Regions from separate parts of the Homo sapiens genome. Here region 1 is linked to region 2. Evidence: fine-mapped expression QTL. A gene starts in region 2. The other region holds a variant in brackets. All regions are shown on one strand. Distances are between the middles of the regions. Region 1 overlaps LPCAT2 (lysophosphatidylcholine acyltransferase 2). Region 2 holds the start of LPCAT2 (lysophosphatidylcholine acyltransferase 2).

What was found.
Region 1: its variant is fine-mapped to the expression of LPCAT2 in whole blood (TOPMed, PIP above 0.99).

What each region holds. Positions count from the first base shown.
Region 1 is chr16:55,528,496-55,536,495 of GRCh38, forward strand. LPCAT2 (lysophosphatidylcholine acyltransferase 2) reads left to right here. Exons shown (of 14, transcript NM_017839.5): 3 at 1-99; 4 at 1,340-1,452; 5 at 3,419-3,479; 6 at 4,329-4,387; 7 at 5,948-5,982. Among named protein-coding and RNA genes, the nearest start is that of LPCAT2, 23 kb to the left of the region's middle. The variant CTTTTA/C (reference allele first, on the strand shown) is at 3,300.
Region 2 is chr16:55,505,103-55,513,102 of GRCh38, forward strand. LPCAT2 (lysophosphatidylcholine acyltransferase 2) reads left to right here and starts at 3,970. Exons shown (of 14, transcript NM_017839.5): 1 at 3,970-4,250. The coding sequence starts at 4,080. It overlaps MMP2 (matrix metallopeptidase 2), which reads left to right. Exons shown (of 13, transcript NM_004530.6): 13 at 237-1,589. The coding sequence ends at 340.

The sequences.
Region 1 (8,000 bases), 23 kb after region 2:
CCCCTCATTCAACATTCTTTGATGGAATTGCCTGTGTTGTAGCTGGGTTACCTTCTATGGTATCTCGAAATGAGAATGCACAAGTCCCTCTGATTGGCAGTAAGTACTTGTAAGGTAACGTAGATAAAATATTTTCATGCTCATGCTTTAAATTAAAATAATCATATATAGTTCATTGATAACCTTTTTAAAAAGTTTAAAATAAACATTTCAAACATATTTACTTTATTGTAATAAGTTACTACATGGAAATAGTATATTTATGAAAAAAGATTAGAGACTTCCCTTTTATAGCTTCATAACTCTTTAAAACTTTTTATCACTATGTCATTGTCTTTCTGTTCTTATATATAGCCAGAAAGACTAGTTTTCAGATACTATCCATGCCTGATTTGAGAGAATTTAATCCATGTTTGATTTGAGAGAATCTATGAAAACACAGGTATATGCTGTTTGATGAATTTATCTTCAGGATATTAGGCTGCTAAATGCAGTAAGTGATTTCTCCTTACTCTGTTTTCTTCATTATTGCCCCCCAAATCTCCATGAGGGACCTATGTGTAGCTCTTTGAAAATTATGATGTGGGACAATAGGTACTTCCTGCCATGAAAAATAATGACGCAAGTGAAGTGTTTTTCCTACCAGATGCTTTGGTCTCCCTCAAGAATTGTCTCCAAGTAACTACTCCCTGTTGTCCCAAGTTTATTGCAAACATCAGATGATGAGAGAGTGTGAAAGTTCCCTGATGTTGCCTCAGTGCTCTGGAGAAGTAATAGTAGTTCTTGCAGCTTTGTCATTCAGCTAAGACATTTTTTTTTTAATGTAACTACCATGCTTTGTGTAATATGGCTTTTTCCTGAAAAATTGTGTAGCAATAGATCTTTGGTAAATTGAAGTTGATTTTTCGTGTGTTAGGAAGCTATTTTAAAAAAATGTTCTACTGAAAATTGCAGTATTATGAGTAATGGTTACTCCTACTTATGTGTACTGTGAATTCACGTAATCAGTTTTCAAGGTATTCCTAAAATAAAACAATAATCTTGTAGCATATCCCAAAGGTTTAATGTCAATTGAGGAAGAAGACCTTTAGGGAGAAAATTACATTTGCTTCCTTTTGTATTTTTGCTGCTTAGTTCTGTTAAATTAATGAAATGTTTTTAGTTGTAAATATCCACTTCTTTCAAAATTAGAAGCTAAGTTCTAATAAATTGTTTTTTAATTGTTCTCTTTGATTTACTCATTTAAATTTTCCATACAATATGTTATATATCCAGTATTATTGCTGTGGTTGCTTTAGCCAAAAAATGGCTTGCCTGTAACTTTTCATTTGTTTTAAAGGACTGTTACGGGCTGTGCAACCAGTTTTGGTGTCCCGTGTAGATCCGGATTCCCGAAAAAACACAATAAATGAAATAATAAAGCGAACAACATCAGGAGGAGAATGGCCCCAGGTAAAACATGGTAGATGTTAATTTAAATATAGTGGGAGTTTATTAATTGTATGTATGTAGACTTACTCATTTGGATCCACAGATAGCAATATCTGTGGACACCTATACTAGGTATTGTTAGCATAATAGATGCAGAGTAAATACAGTAGCCAGTATTAAGAAGTCCTCTTCCCCATGAGATACTCTATGGAATTAAATGTATTATTCTTTTTTATTCTCCAAACTCTTTGAACCAATTTTCTCTTTGTGTTACAAAAATTTGATTCTCTAACTCTAAATTTAATTACCACTTTATAGATGAGATAGGGGATACCTTAGTATCTATTACCATTATACTAAAGTATCTCCTATTTCATATTTTAGAAGCTTAATTATATAAGCTCAGTTATACTCAATATTGTGGTGGGTAAGTGATTAAGATCTTTAATCTCACCTGAAGTATATTTAGATAGTGCTTTTCAGTTCAAGGGGCATATCAAAATCACCTGTAGAACCTTTTTTCAAACTTTACCATCTCACCACTCCCTTCCCTGGAATGCGGGGGTGGGGGGGGGGTAACATTTACTGCAAAATAAGCCAAGGGTGATTCTAATAGTCACTCCTTTATCTTTGCCCAGTTGAAAACAACTCATCTCTAGCAGACTAATAGTCCTACAGTTATCTAGCCACACATGATGACATGAAGATGTTAAAGTCCAAGAGAAAGTATGTGACCAAACAGGTTGTTTTAGAAACCAAAGCATGTAAGGAGTGATTAAAAAGAGGATTGAGAATAGGTGGCATTGGGAGTAGGGTTTGATTTTTCTCTGTGGATCCAAAGACTATATCTAGGACTGGTAGATGGGAGATAACAAATATATAAATTTCAGCTCATTTTGCTCATCTTGAGGAACAACTTTCTGTCCAGAAGTGGAATGGTCTGATGTGGAATCCTTTTCTAGAATTTTCAGGCATTGGCTGAACTACCACTATTGTAGAAAGAAATCAAGCATTAGATATGCTAGGTGACTTTTAATGGCCCTTCCAGCTCTGAGATTTTACGATTCACTGTATACCCATTAATCGTTAGTAGTTTAGTTGTTGAATTTTCACTGAATAAAATATATTTGATATTGTATCCCGTTGTCATAGGAAACCCACTTTTAAACTGGAGAATGGAATTATATCCTTTCATAATTTTTATTTTATAAATAACCTGTTATTGTGGCAATGTAGCCCAATAATATTTTCCCTATCTAATTATCATAAAAACACTTTGCTAACTGCTGTGAGTGCAGGATGTTACTTTATTTTATTTTATTCACTTAGCAATTTATTCATGGCTAAATTTTAAAAGCATCAGAAAATTAAGTTGCTATTTTACTTAATGGGGAAACTAACGTACTGCATATCTTTTACTTTGAAAACATGAAGAAGTATGTTAAAAGCTAAAAACACTGCCTCAAAAAGAAAAAAGATATTAAGTTGTATTCCATATGTCAACTAATTCAAGTAAACATGAAGCACATTGTACACATATCTTTTTTCCTTTGTCCTCAAGACATGCCTGAACTATATGTTGTGGGAGTAAATATTAATGGGAAAACTGAAACAAAGTTGGAAATTATTTGGTTAAGGATATATAGCAGAAGAAAGAATTTAATGTAGCCTAATGCACACTTTGACCATGAATTATGCTCTACATCTTTTAAGTTTATTCAGATCATTAGTTTTATCATTAAGAGACATTTGTTAAGTATATTCTTTATTCAAAGCTTAAATCCATTTTCTAATTAAATTAGACAACACTTTCTTTACAAGAAAATTGAATAATCTGATAGTAGCTTTCATTAGAATCAAATGTTAGC[CTTTTA/C]TTTTGTTTTTGTTTTTTAAGCATTGGCAGCTGTTTGTGAAGTCATAAGAAAGCGAGTAAAGAGGTAATTTATTAATTAGATTGAAATATTAAATCTATTCCTTTTTTCCCAAGATACTAGTTTTCCCAGAAGGTACTTGTACTAATCGTTCCTGTTTGATTACTTTTAAACCAGGTGAGAAAAATTAAATTATGTATTCTAACAAAGTAATATGTGAGATTTTGCAAATGATTTTATAGAAATACACAAAATAACTCTTTAGCTTGCTCTGAGCATTTTTTTCTTTTCTGATAGCAACTTTTTAACGTTGTGGATCCACAGAACTTACTGCTTTGCTTTCTCTTTTGGGGTCATAATTCCTCTCCCCTTGGAGTGTCCACTCCATGCATGTGCACTTAGGATGTGTGGCTGTGTGTGTGTTTGGGAACCCTCACGGACACATAAGGTTCTATGTCATCAAGTAGAAAACCTATCTCATTATCATTATAATGTCTTCAGATGCTTTCTAAGGTTCACCTCTTTTTTAACATTAGAAGTCAGTGAATGCAGCTTTCATTATAATTTTTAATACTTTAAAATGTTTTTGTATTAGCTGCCAGAATGCTCAGCAGCAAAGTTATGACTCACTTCTAGCAAGTGTGGTAGTTCTTGCTTCAAGCATTTGGTTTCATGTAGCTTTTCTTCTTATTTTTTCTTTGTCTTGATTTTATCATTACTTAAAACAATTCTGTTGAATATTAACACTTGGAAAATGAAAAAAAGTGGAGAAATAAATCAATGAATAAACAAATATTTTAAGTGGCATAGGCACAGCATTTAATATTTTGCTTCAGTAGTTCTTAATTAAAAAAAAAAAATCCCTCATTTTGGTAAGCACTAGGGATTTACCAACATTTAGCAAATGATTTCTGTTACACATACTCTTAAAATATTCAGTCTATTTATACTATTTATTAATTTTCTCTTTATCATAAAACTTTTATTCACATAAAAACACATTATAAACTTTCAATGTGGTTGCAGGAGCCTTCATTCCAGGAGTTCCAGTGCAGCCAGTCCTCCTCAGATACCCAAACAAGCTGGTAAGCACAGTATTTTACCACAGGAAGAATTTCAGTATTCCAAGTAGCACAGATTCTCTGGGACCCCTTTTAATATATAAATAAGGTTGTGAACAGATAAATGGTGGAAGCAAATGGGAGAGCTCATTCTGCTCGCCACATCTAGTTTTTAAAATTTTGCAAGATAGGCACATATCCATTGATACCAATATTAAATATTATTTTGCTATTACTGAACTTCAGGAAGATATTTTCTTAGCCTTTACTCTGTTGTCACCATGTTGGTGTGATTAATTCCCAGATTAGGGTCTCATTAGAATGAATAGTTAAAAATCTGTGATTTTCATTAACTCTAGAAAGAAATTTTTCCTGACTCAGTGGTCATTACTAGTGAAGAAGTATTGAAATAGCAGGATAAATATTAAAGAGGCTTGGTCTTTCATTACTGCCTCAGTACTTACTAATTGTGTGAGCCTTGGTAGTAAGTAACTTAATTAAATAAGAAAATACCTGAGAAAACTTAACATCTTTTTTTGTTTTTCGGGTTTTTTTTTTTTTTTTTTTTTTGAGACAGAGTCTTGCTCTGTCATCAAGGCTGGAGTACAATGGCGTGATCTTGGCTCACTACAACCTCCGCTTCCTGGGTTCAAGTGATTCTCTCCTTTCTCAGCCTCCCGAGTAGTGGGGATTACAGGCATGTGCCACCATGCCCGGCTAATTTTTGAATTTTTAATAGAGACAGGGTTTCACCATGTTGACCAGGCTGGTCTTGAACTCCTGACCTCAAGTAATCCACCTGTCTTGGCCTCCCAAAGTGCTGGGATTACAGGCATGAGCCACTGCATCTGGCCTAGCTTAACATATAAAGTCCAGAGTTGACTCAGGAAGTAGTCTCTTCTGTTCCAGTTGGGTACATTGTTGTCCTCTAAATATTGATTTTACCACCATTTTCCTAAAGAAAGATTTTTGAGGGAATGTTTTGGTTCTGAGAGGAACTTTCTTTACTAGAGAATTTATATTAAAAGCCAGGATATAATTATTAGTTATCTCTACTATTTAATATTAAGGGTTATTGATCAAATCAGTTTTCTATTTAGAGGCTGGTTTTTCAACCTTGGACATCTATGGTTAAAAAAAGAATTAAAATCTATCAAACTTTTATTTGTTGTACTTCTGCCCATAGGTTTGAGTTTATTGTATGTTCATATTATTTTATTTCCCCCAAATAAGCTTTTTTTTGAAAACGGATATATTCTGAGTTTTTTGTAATCAAATTAATTATCCAGATATGTTCATATTAGGAGAAAAGTGGCTAAGCATGTAAAATAGTTTTTAAAAAATTAAAACAAGTCATTTCATCAAAAGTTGTTGACATTAGGAAGATCTTTGCTATGTAGATATGTAATCCAAGAATTCATAGATCAGTTCACTGTTCTTTAACAATAATGTATTTATTTTACTTCTCAACATGTTGCTTTTAATTTCAGAAAAAATACATGAATCCCCATATTAAAATAAGATCTTTATTTTATTTAGTATTTTTCCTCCAGACCAACAGCTAAAATAATTTTGTTATTATAGGATACTGTGACCTGGACATGGCAAGGATATACATTGTAAGTCACTTATGTCTATTATTAGTTTATATAAATTTTATTTTAGTGAAGAAAAAGAAAGATCATTTATTCATTCTTTAAAAAAGTATTATTTTAAAAATATTGTTATATTTAAAAACATAAAGATTTCTGATCAGAGCCCTAAGTCTTATAACTGATAAGTCTCTGTAGAGAGCATCACTATCTTGACCACTAACCCCTGGAGTCTTCTGTGTGCAAAATTCTAGTCATCTGTCCCATTCAAATGGGTCTCAAGTGTTTGCTAGTTCGTAAGTGACCTAGTTTGCATCATAGTTAGCTTTAATTTTGTAGTTTTATTTCCATTGCAGATTTGGCATTATCTAGTGTCTCTATCCTTACTTACTATGTTGGTTTAAGCCATTCAGAAAAATTTAGTCATATGGCCTGAAATAGCTATGATGTGTCTGATATGAGTTGAAAAAATAGCTAACCAAGATTTCAGTTCTGCTCTTGGATTTGAAAAGCATTGGAATCAGCAGTTTCTATAAGCACTTTACTTAAGAGAGAAGAGGAATACAGTTTCATTATTAAGCAAGCTGATGTGAAGTAGGCCTTTAAAAAGAACAGAACATGTAGAAACTTGGTTTCTCTCAAGATCGTTTGTTTAGTTCCCTCTGAATAAGTCTGAGCCTGTTTAAATTTTGGTGAGAGCCGTATGAAATACCTGAATTTGAAGACTTCCTTTAGGGTCTTACCCAGTTTTCATATTGTTAAGCACAAAGCTCAGATAACATTGTTGATGGGTAGGTGACAATAACTTGGAAATATTTAAGGAAATCATCAGTTGCCTTAAGCACATTGTAGGCTTTTTTAGATAACTTCAACGTAATCCAACCAACTTCTGAAATCAAAACTGCATAATTTCTCCATTTTGTGTATATATACATTGCTTTGAAATAATAAATTTAAATCAGAATAGGTAACTGATGAGACAGTAGAATAAATATTAACACATATGAAACACTTATATTCTTGTTATGCTTCAGTCCTTGATAATTGAAGATACACAAATAACGCCAAACATAAAGAACATAAATTGTAAAGGATATCTAAACAGCATATTATCTTTCACTTACCAGGAAATCAATTTATTCATTTGACTAAAATACATGTTTCATGCCATTACTTATTTTGAATTCCTGATTGCTTTTAGACATGGAAGAATTGGGAGAAACAGGTAGTATGAAAGTATTTGGGAAAACGAAGTGCCTTAACAATGGATGCATAGCATACTTCCACTTTCTGAGGTGTGCCATCCTTTGGGCCTTTACAGGTTAAGTTCCTTACAGAGATAGTGATGTGGCCAATAGGACTTTTTTTGGTTGCCCAGCAGTCCAGGTTAATGTGATGATCAAATAGGAGAAAGCTTTTCTGGAAGAGGAACTGGGGATAGAAAATATAATAGACGGGTTTAGTTAATCTAGCCTTCTCAACTGAGAAGTATGTGAGAAGAGGAAAAGGAAATTAGGAGAAAGAATTCAGGAATGAAAGGGAGAAAAAATATTTTGAGAGTCAAAAATTTTTCAGGACTTTTAAACAAACACAAAATCTTTGAAAGGCACAGCTTTGTTTTGTTCAATCTATTGCAAATCTCACGTCCACTTTTGTCTTCTCATCTACTTAATATTATTAGCACTGTGTCTGTTACTTCTAAATCTGTTTTCTCAATTGCCCTTGCTCAAAGTGCTACTCCAGTTACAGATTCTAAGAAACAGATTTTATACCAAAACGAATATCCCAAGGAAAAGGAGACTTGGAATAAACTTAGAGAAGTTTTGTATCAGACTAAGAAGTATTTGGTCTGTCTGTAGGGTGGACAAGACAGGTTAAATGAGATTTTATGTGTGGTTTCATATTTTTCACAGTATTCAGAATTTTCAGAATAGAATGCATCTATTCAAGTAATTGAATTCCACAGCTCCATTTAAATAATTAAAAACAACTTATGCTAGATAGTGTGGATTGACTTTAGAGTTTATAGATAGTAAAAGATTTTT
Region 2 (8,000 bases):
CACTATACCCAGCTAATTTAAATATGTTTTTCGTAGAAATGGGGGTCTCTCTATGCTGCCCAAGCTGGTCTCGAACTCCTGGGCTCAAGCAATCCTCCTGCCTCAGCCTTTCAAAGCTCTCTTCTCGTTTAAAAGCTTCTTCCCTATGCCAGGCAGAAATTCAAAGTTCCCAGGAACCTTCTGTGTGCCAGAATGTCAGGATAAGGGGGTCACGGTCTCTTCTTTCTCTATCCCAGGTCACAGCTACTTCTTCAAGGGTGCCTATTACCTGAAGCTGGAGAACCAAAGTCTGAAGAGCGTGAAGTTTGGAAGCATCAAATCCGACTGGCTAGGCTGCTGAGCTGGCCCTGGCTCCCACAGGCCCTTCCTCTCCACTGCCTTCGATACACCGGGCCTGGAGAACTAGAGAAGGACCCGGAGGGGCCTGGCAGCCGTGCCTTCAGCTCTACAGCTAATCAGCATTCTCACTCCTACCTGGTAATTTAAGATTCCAGAGAGTGGCTCCTCCCGGTGCCCAAGAATAGATGCTGACTGTACTCCTCCCAGGCGCCCCTTCCCCCTCCAATCCCACCAACCCTCAGAGCCACCCCTAAAGAGATACTTTGATATTTTCAACGCAGCCCTGCTTTGGGCTGCCCTGGTGCTGCCACACTTCAGGCTCTTCTCCTTTCACAACCTTCTGTGGCTCACAGAACCCTTGGAGCCAATGGAGACTGTCTCAAGAGGGCACTGGTGGCCCGACAGCCTGGCACAGGGCAGTGGGACAGGGCATGGCCAGGTGGCCACTCCAGACCCCTGGCTTTTCACTGCTGGCTGCCTTAGAACCTTTCTTACATTAGCAGTTTGCTTTGTATGCACTTTGTTTTTTTCTTTGGGTCTTGTTTTTTTTTTCCACTTAGAAATTGCATTTCCTGACAGAAGGACTCAGGTTGTCTGAAGTCACTGCACAGTGCATCTCAGCCCACATAGTGATGGTTCCCCTGTTCACTCTACTTAGCATGTCCCTACCGAGTCTCTTCTCCACTGGATGGAGGAAAACCAAGCCGTGGCTTCCCGCTCAGCCCTCCCTGCCCCTCCCTTCAACCATTCCCCATGGGAAATGTCAACAAGTATGAATAAAGACACCTACTGAGTGGCCGTGTTTGCCATCTGTTTTAGCAGAGCCTAGACAAGGGCCACAGACCCAGCCAGAAGCGGAAACTTAAAAAGTCCGAATCTCTGCTCCCTGCAGGGCACAGGTGATGGTGTCTGCTGGAAAGGTCAGAGCTTCCAAAGTAAACAGCAAGAGAACCTCAGGGAGAGTAAGCTCTAGTCCCTCTGTCCTGTAGAAAGAGCCCTGAAGAATCAGCAATTTTGTTGCTTTATTGTGGCATCTGTTCGAGGTTTGCTTCCTCTTTAAGTCTGTTTCTTCATTAGCAATCATATCAGTTTTAATGCTACTACTAACAATGAACAGTAACAATAATATCCCCCTCAATTAATAGAGTGCTTTCTATGTGCAAGGCACTTTTCACGTGTCACCTATTTTAACCTTTCCAACCACATAAATAAAAAAGGCCATTATTAGTTGAATCTTATTGATGAAGAGACTGATGGCTCAAGAGAAGTGATTTTTCCAGGGTCCCATAGCTATTAGGGACCTACAAGGCCAAAGGATAGCCTAGCAGAGGAGCTTTAGCTCTCAAACCAGAATCTCACCACCCTCCGCCACCCTCAAAAACACCCCCACCACCTTCAAAACCGCTCCTGCTACCCTCCACCACCCCCAAAACCACGCTGGGTAAACACAGCTAAGGGAGAAATACTGTGCTTGCTTCTAAACACAGCTGGTATTAATGGATAAGCTCCTTACTCCTTCCTACCAGTCTACCCACTCCTAATCTCCTACATAGAAATTCTGGAGCTACTGCTGAACAGAAATTGAAGGCCTGGGGTTTTTCTGAGGCCCTTTCTGGCTCCGATAGTCTGATTGATAGTATATATATTGCTTCTGGCCTCTTATGATGGGGCTGGTGAGGAAGGTGCGTAAGGAGTGAACTCTACAGGTGACCTCCTCAGTGAGCCTGATGTCATTGTTTCTATCTCTTTTTTCTGTTTTTGAGATGGAGTCTCACTCTGTCACCCAGGCTGGAGTGCAATGGCGCAATCTCGGCTCACTGTAACCTCTGCCTCCCAGGTTTAAGTGATTCTCCTGCCTCAGCCTCCCAAGTAGCTGGGATTACAGGTGCACGCCACCATACCCAGCTAATTTGTTTTGTATTTTGGTAGAGACAGGTATCACCGTGTTGCCCAGGCTGGTCTCGAACTCCTGAGATCAGGCAATCCACCCATCTCGGCCTCCCAAAGTGCTAGGATTATTGGTGTGAGCCACCACTCTCGGCCCCATCTTTTCTATCTTTTATCCTCCCATGGCCTGTCCCCTTGACTCAGATTCTTTTTGTTTCTTCTTCTTCTTTTTTTTTCTTTTTTGAGACAGTGTCTTTCTCTGTCACCCAGGCTGGAGTGCAATGGCATGATCATAGCTCACTGCAGACTTGATCTTCTGGGCTCAAGCAATCCTCCCACTTCAGCCTCCTGAGTAGCTGGGACTGCAGGCATGCAACAGCACAGCCAGCTAATTTTTAATTTTTTTTAGAGATGGTGGAGTCTCTCTTTGTTGCCCAGGCTGGTCTCGAACTCCTGGGCTCAAGGGATCCACCCTCCTCAGCCCCCAAAGTGCTAGGATTACAGGCGTGAGCCACTGCACCTGGCCTGGCTTAGGTTGTTGACAGTTGGAAAGACATCTTTCTGTGCAGGTATCTGGCTAAAGAGTCTCAAGGGTCTGCCAGTCCCAACTTGAAGACCCCCTAGACTGGGGAATCTTCTATCATGGCTGTAATGCACTGTTATTAATGTTCCCTGTTACACTGAGAGAAAAGTCAGTGGCTCCACAACATAATAATGCTTAAAACATGCCATTTCTTCAGTGTTTCTCTATGAACACTACACATGCATTATTTTATTTAATCCTTGCTACAATTCTATGGAGTTAGAATGAATCTCCCATTCCTAGACAAGGAAGCAAACTCAGGTTAAGTGACTGACTCAAGGCCACACATCTATGTGGTAGGGCTGGAAGATTCTGACATTCAGAGGGTAACTTTGGAGAACCCCAGGGCTCAGACTCAGATTTTCATCCTGGCCTTCCTACCTGCTGTGAGAAGAGTTGATCAGTTGGGATGAGTTGATTATCATCTCCTTCCTTTAACTCTCAGCCACTCAGGGTTGATCAACTGTCCTCAGATAATGGGACAAACCCCTGCCCTCCCACCCCCACGAGCACCCACATAGGTCCAAACAGGCTTGAACTTCCTCAGTGTGAAAGGGAGCCACAGCCCAATACATTTCCCTTTTCTGGGTCAGGTTCCTCATCTAGCGTGGAGGGCAACTGTAATTTTTGCCTTTTCTGGTAATAGTAGCTCAGTTTTCCTCTGGAGAACCATCTCTCCCCTGTCAGTCCATTATGTTTTGAGTGAAACAAATTCCACTCCTAGTGCCATCATGGGTGTATTAATATTAGCTCACTTAATGGAACAGCCCAGGGGAAGTGGTTGCTCAATGGCATTACTGGATCCAGGTTAGGATTATCTGAGAATACATTTATCTGCATTTTACGGAAGGCAACCGAGGTTCATAGAGATAGTGATTTGGCCAGCGTCACAGGCCCAGTAAAAGGGATTGAAAATCCAGGTCCGTCCGACCCTAAAGCAGGGAACTCTGCCTAGTGTCTCGCTGTGGAATGTTAGGGATCCTGGGGTACCCTTCAGGGTCTTGGCTCGGAAGGAAAACATTCCCCTCCGAGGGGATGGACTATATTACCAAGGGGGTGGAGCCAGATGCCTGAGGGGGTGTGGCCAGAGCCTGGGGCGTGTCACAGCCGAAGGGGCAGGGCGGCAGCAGCAGGCGTCTAAGTAACTTCAGCGCCTGCGCAGAGGCTCCCCAGCGTCGCCCTAGGCTGGGACTCTAGTAGGTCTTCGGCTCAGTTTTGGCTGCAGCGCCCGCGTAGATCGCTTCGGCCGGGTTCTACGCCCGGCTCAACTATGAGCCGGTGCGCCCAGGCGGCGGAAGTGGCGGCCACAGTGCCAGGTGCCGGCGTCGGGAACGTGGGGCTGCGGCCGCCCATGGTGCCCCGTCAGGCGTCCTTCTTCCCGCCGCCGGTGCCGAACCCCTTCGTGCAGCAGACGCAGATCGGCTCCGCGAGGCGGGTCCAGGTGAGGGGCGTGGGTCTGAGGGGAGAGGTGGTCTGAGGGGGGCCTAGGTCAGAGGGGGGTCCAGGTAAGGGGTGTGGGTCTGAGAGAGGAGGGCGGCCGAGGGGGGCGTGGGTCTGAGGGAGTGAGGTGGTCCGAGGCGGGCGAGAGTCTGAGGAGGGAGGTGGCCTGAAGGGGGCATGGGTCTGAGGAGGGAGGTGGCCCGAGGGGAGCCAGGGTCTGGGGCGGGTCCAGGTGACTGGTGTAGGTCTGACGGGGGAGGGCGGTCGAGGGGCGCGTGGGTCTGAGGGGCGTTGTGGGTCTGGGAAGCAAAGGCATCAGAGGAAGAAAGAGCAGTGGATCTGAGAGGAGAGGACTTCTGAGGGGCCGTGAGCCTGAAAGGGGCGGAGATGTGTGTCTGAGAATTGAGGACATTTAGAGGATGGTCTGAGCGGGCACGGGAGGAGAGAAGATGCTGGGAAGATGCGGGCCTGAGAGGAGAATCCAAAACAGGAAGAGACTGAGCTGGCTGGTGGCGCAGGCTACATTCCATGCCCCAGAAGGTTGAAGGAATCTGTGAATCTGTGACAGAAGCTTCAACTTGAGTTTATGAGAGTGTAGTGGGAGGCAGATCTACTACGGGAGAGTAGATTTGAAGAAGTCTTTTTTTTTTTTTTTTTGCCTTAGGAAGGAGAGGAGTCAGTATGGGATGGATAAGAGTGAGGCAGAAGGCAGAGAGCCTAGGTCTGTGGTTAGAACAACAGGTAAGGCTGGAAAGATTTAGCTGAGCAGGAGCATGATGGAGGGTGGGAAGTCAGAATCAAAGAAAAGGGACAACTGAGTCAGCTTAGGATGTTCAAGAAGTTTTGGTCCAGAATCAGTCTTCACCTAAAAACGTTTCCTAAGTTGAAGCATGAGAAGTAGTAGCCCAGGCTGTTTTCCATTGTTAAAAATGGCTATACTGTTATGCACAAAGGAAGTTTCCTTTCCTTTCCTTTTTCTTGTAAAGGGTTCCTTTTACCATTGGCAGTTGCACTCTTTGGACTTCCTCTTTGTTGAAGTTAGTGATCAGAGAACAAGATAGACCCTGCTAACCACATTTGTCCGTGTGTTCTGCGGGGGTTGGGGGGGTGGGGGAACAATTTTGAAGTTTTCATGTCCATCTCACACATTACTTTGGATTTGAAGCAGTATAATATTTGCAATCAGCTTGTATGCACTAAGACCATTGTCCTCTACAGTGGGGGAAGGTTAAGTGCAGAGCTAAACAACACAGGTGGTGGCTTGAGTAATGGTAGATGGGTGTCTGGTTGAAGAGGGGTGTGAGAGAGGAAGAAGATAAAGAATGTAGTAATACTGCTTTGTGAGGAAATTAAACGTTTAAAAATGTGATCCTCATGTCTTTAAATTAATAGATATTCTTTTTGTGTCTTCACATTCTGAAACATTTGTAAATACATAGACCATTGTTCAAGATTAAATTTAGTCTGATTTAATTAAATCATACTTAAATGAAAATATGCCCATCTATTTGACTTCATATTTTGGAAAGAAACAGCATGGAATGTTGACAAATATTTATATTGCACCTATAATAAATTATTAAGTTTTTCCATCACCTGGTTTGTTACTGTTTAAAGATCTCTTCCAAATAACTCTCTGAGAGTTATAGTATAATGGAATGATAGCTAGTCAGTTATAGGAACTGGTCATTTATTAGTTGTATGACTTTGGCCAAGTCACTTAACCTCTCTGAACTATACTTTTCTCGTCTATTACATTGGAATATTAATAACTCAAAGGAGGGCTACAATTAAGTGAAATAATCTGTTATTGTTTGTTGATCTTAATATTGATAATATTGATAGTTATCCTATATATTTTCTACAAAGTATATACTGTACTTAAAATTTACTACTTGGATTAAATGGGATTTAACAAAGTCTGGATATTAAAAATACTTTTTAAATTTATATAGATCAGAGATACAAGAGGTTTCAGTGGCTTGAATCATCTGGGTAAAGGGAAGATTTGAATAGGCATGGTAGAAAAACAATGTCCATATTATCCAGTTTAAAAGGTGGACACACTTTCATTTAAGTATGACTTAGTATGATTAATTTAGACTAAGTTTAATCTTAAATGATGATCAATGTCTTGCTTAAGGACTGTTGTCCTCACATTTCACTAAGATAGTTAAACAAACAAGTACAAAAATATATAATCTCATGTTTTAGTAAGTGTAATGAAGGAAAACCAGAGAATAACACTGAGAGAAGGCCACCCAATGGAGATGACATATTACCAAATGGAAATATGATGAATTCTCTTAATTTGTCAATGAGTTAACTCAAAATTGATTTACTGTTAGACACTATTATTTGTTGCAAACCTTGAAGATGGCACAGAAAAAAAAGTTGCCTAATATTTTGCAACTTGTTCAATTAAAATCCATATGGGTTGCTCAGTGTAGACATGAGTGACTCTTATGCTAATATACTTTAAACTCATTCCAACTCTTTCTTCAGGGTCTATGCTATATGGTCCTTTCTTTCAGTCAAGATTATTGCTTGTTTTTTAATAATGATACCTCTTTGAAGAGAATCTCAGCCAGTGACCTACCAGAGTGACTTGGGAATTTGAGTCGTCTCATCTTCTCCACAGTACTCTTCCCCAGTATACCACCATACTTCATTGCACCACCATTCAAATAAATATAACATTAGCTAAAAATAGTGTGCTTACCATGTACACAGAGCTTCAAGAAAAATCTCCTGGATCCAAGATCCCTTCTATATTATAGTTCTGAAACTCCTACTCATCTTACCTAATACGTATTCTGTTTTATAGGAAATAAGACTGATAGCATAAGTTTCATTATATTTGTAAGTCAGTTTTCAAGTGAATAATAATAATTTAACAGGACTAGTTTTAGTCTCAGGAATGGTGGAGTAGCTCAATGTAGACAATGTAGACAAACAATTATAAACCCTAGTCAAAATATGAAAAACTACACGAAGGCACTATAGAGCAACACAAATCAGACAGAAACTGGAGGGATTTGTTTCTTGAAATAATACTTCTATACTGTGTAACATTACCCCAGCCCCTTTTTTTCCCTGAAGGTTATCACTTGACACCACATGAAGGGATTGCTAGAAAGCCTCAGCCTTATTGATTGACATGATATATCAGAGCACAAAGTTCAAGACTATCAAAGTGACTAAAAATCGAAGGTGGAAGTCCCAGAAAGGAGGAAACTAGAAATGAGGGAGCCCCTAAATTGGCATATAAATGATCTCAAAACCTTGGCCGATTCCTGAGCTGTGTATTTACAAAGGAGCCTTCAAGGACTCTGGAGGAAAGTAACAGCTGGAAGGAAGAAGAAACTGAGCAGACATTTCAACTGATAGACACCACAGGGAAGGCACAGTTAGAATCCCACCAATTAAGGGGGCCTTGGCAAACATCTCAGGCTTTACACTGAAACCTCACAAAGGTGATACCATAGGAGAAAAGCTAGTCCTATACCCTAGGACTAAGGCTTCAGTCTAAGACTAAGGGCTAGCTTCAAACAAATTTTCCCTAAAAAAGTATAAAACTAAGCCTTCACAAAGTGAATGCAATCAGCCAGAATTTTACCTACCTGCCAGGACAGAAATCAACATTCTTTAGAAAAGGATAACAGAATCCAGAATATCTGTAATATATCACCCAAAATGGCCAAAATACTATAAAAACTGTACTAGACATTCAAAGAAATAGGAAAATGTG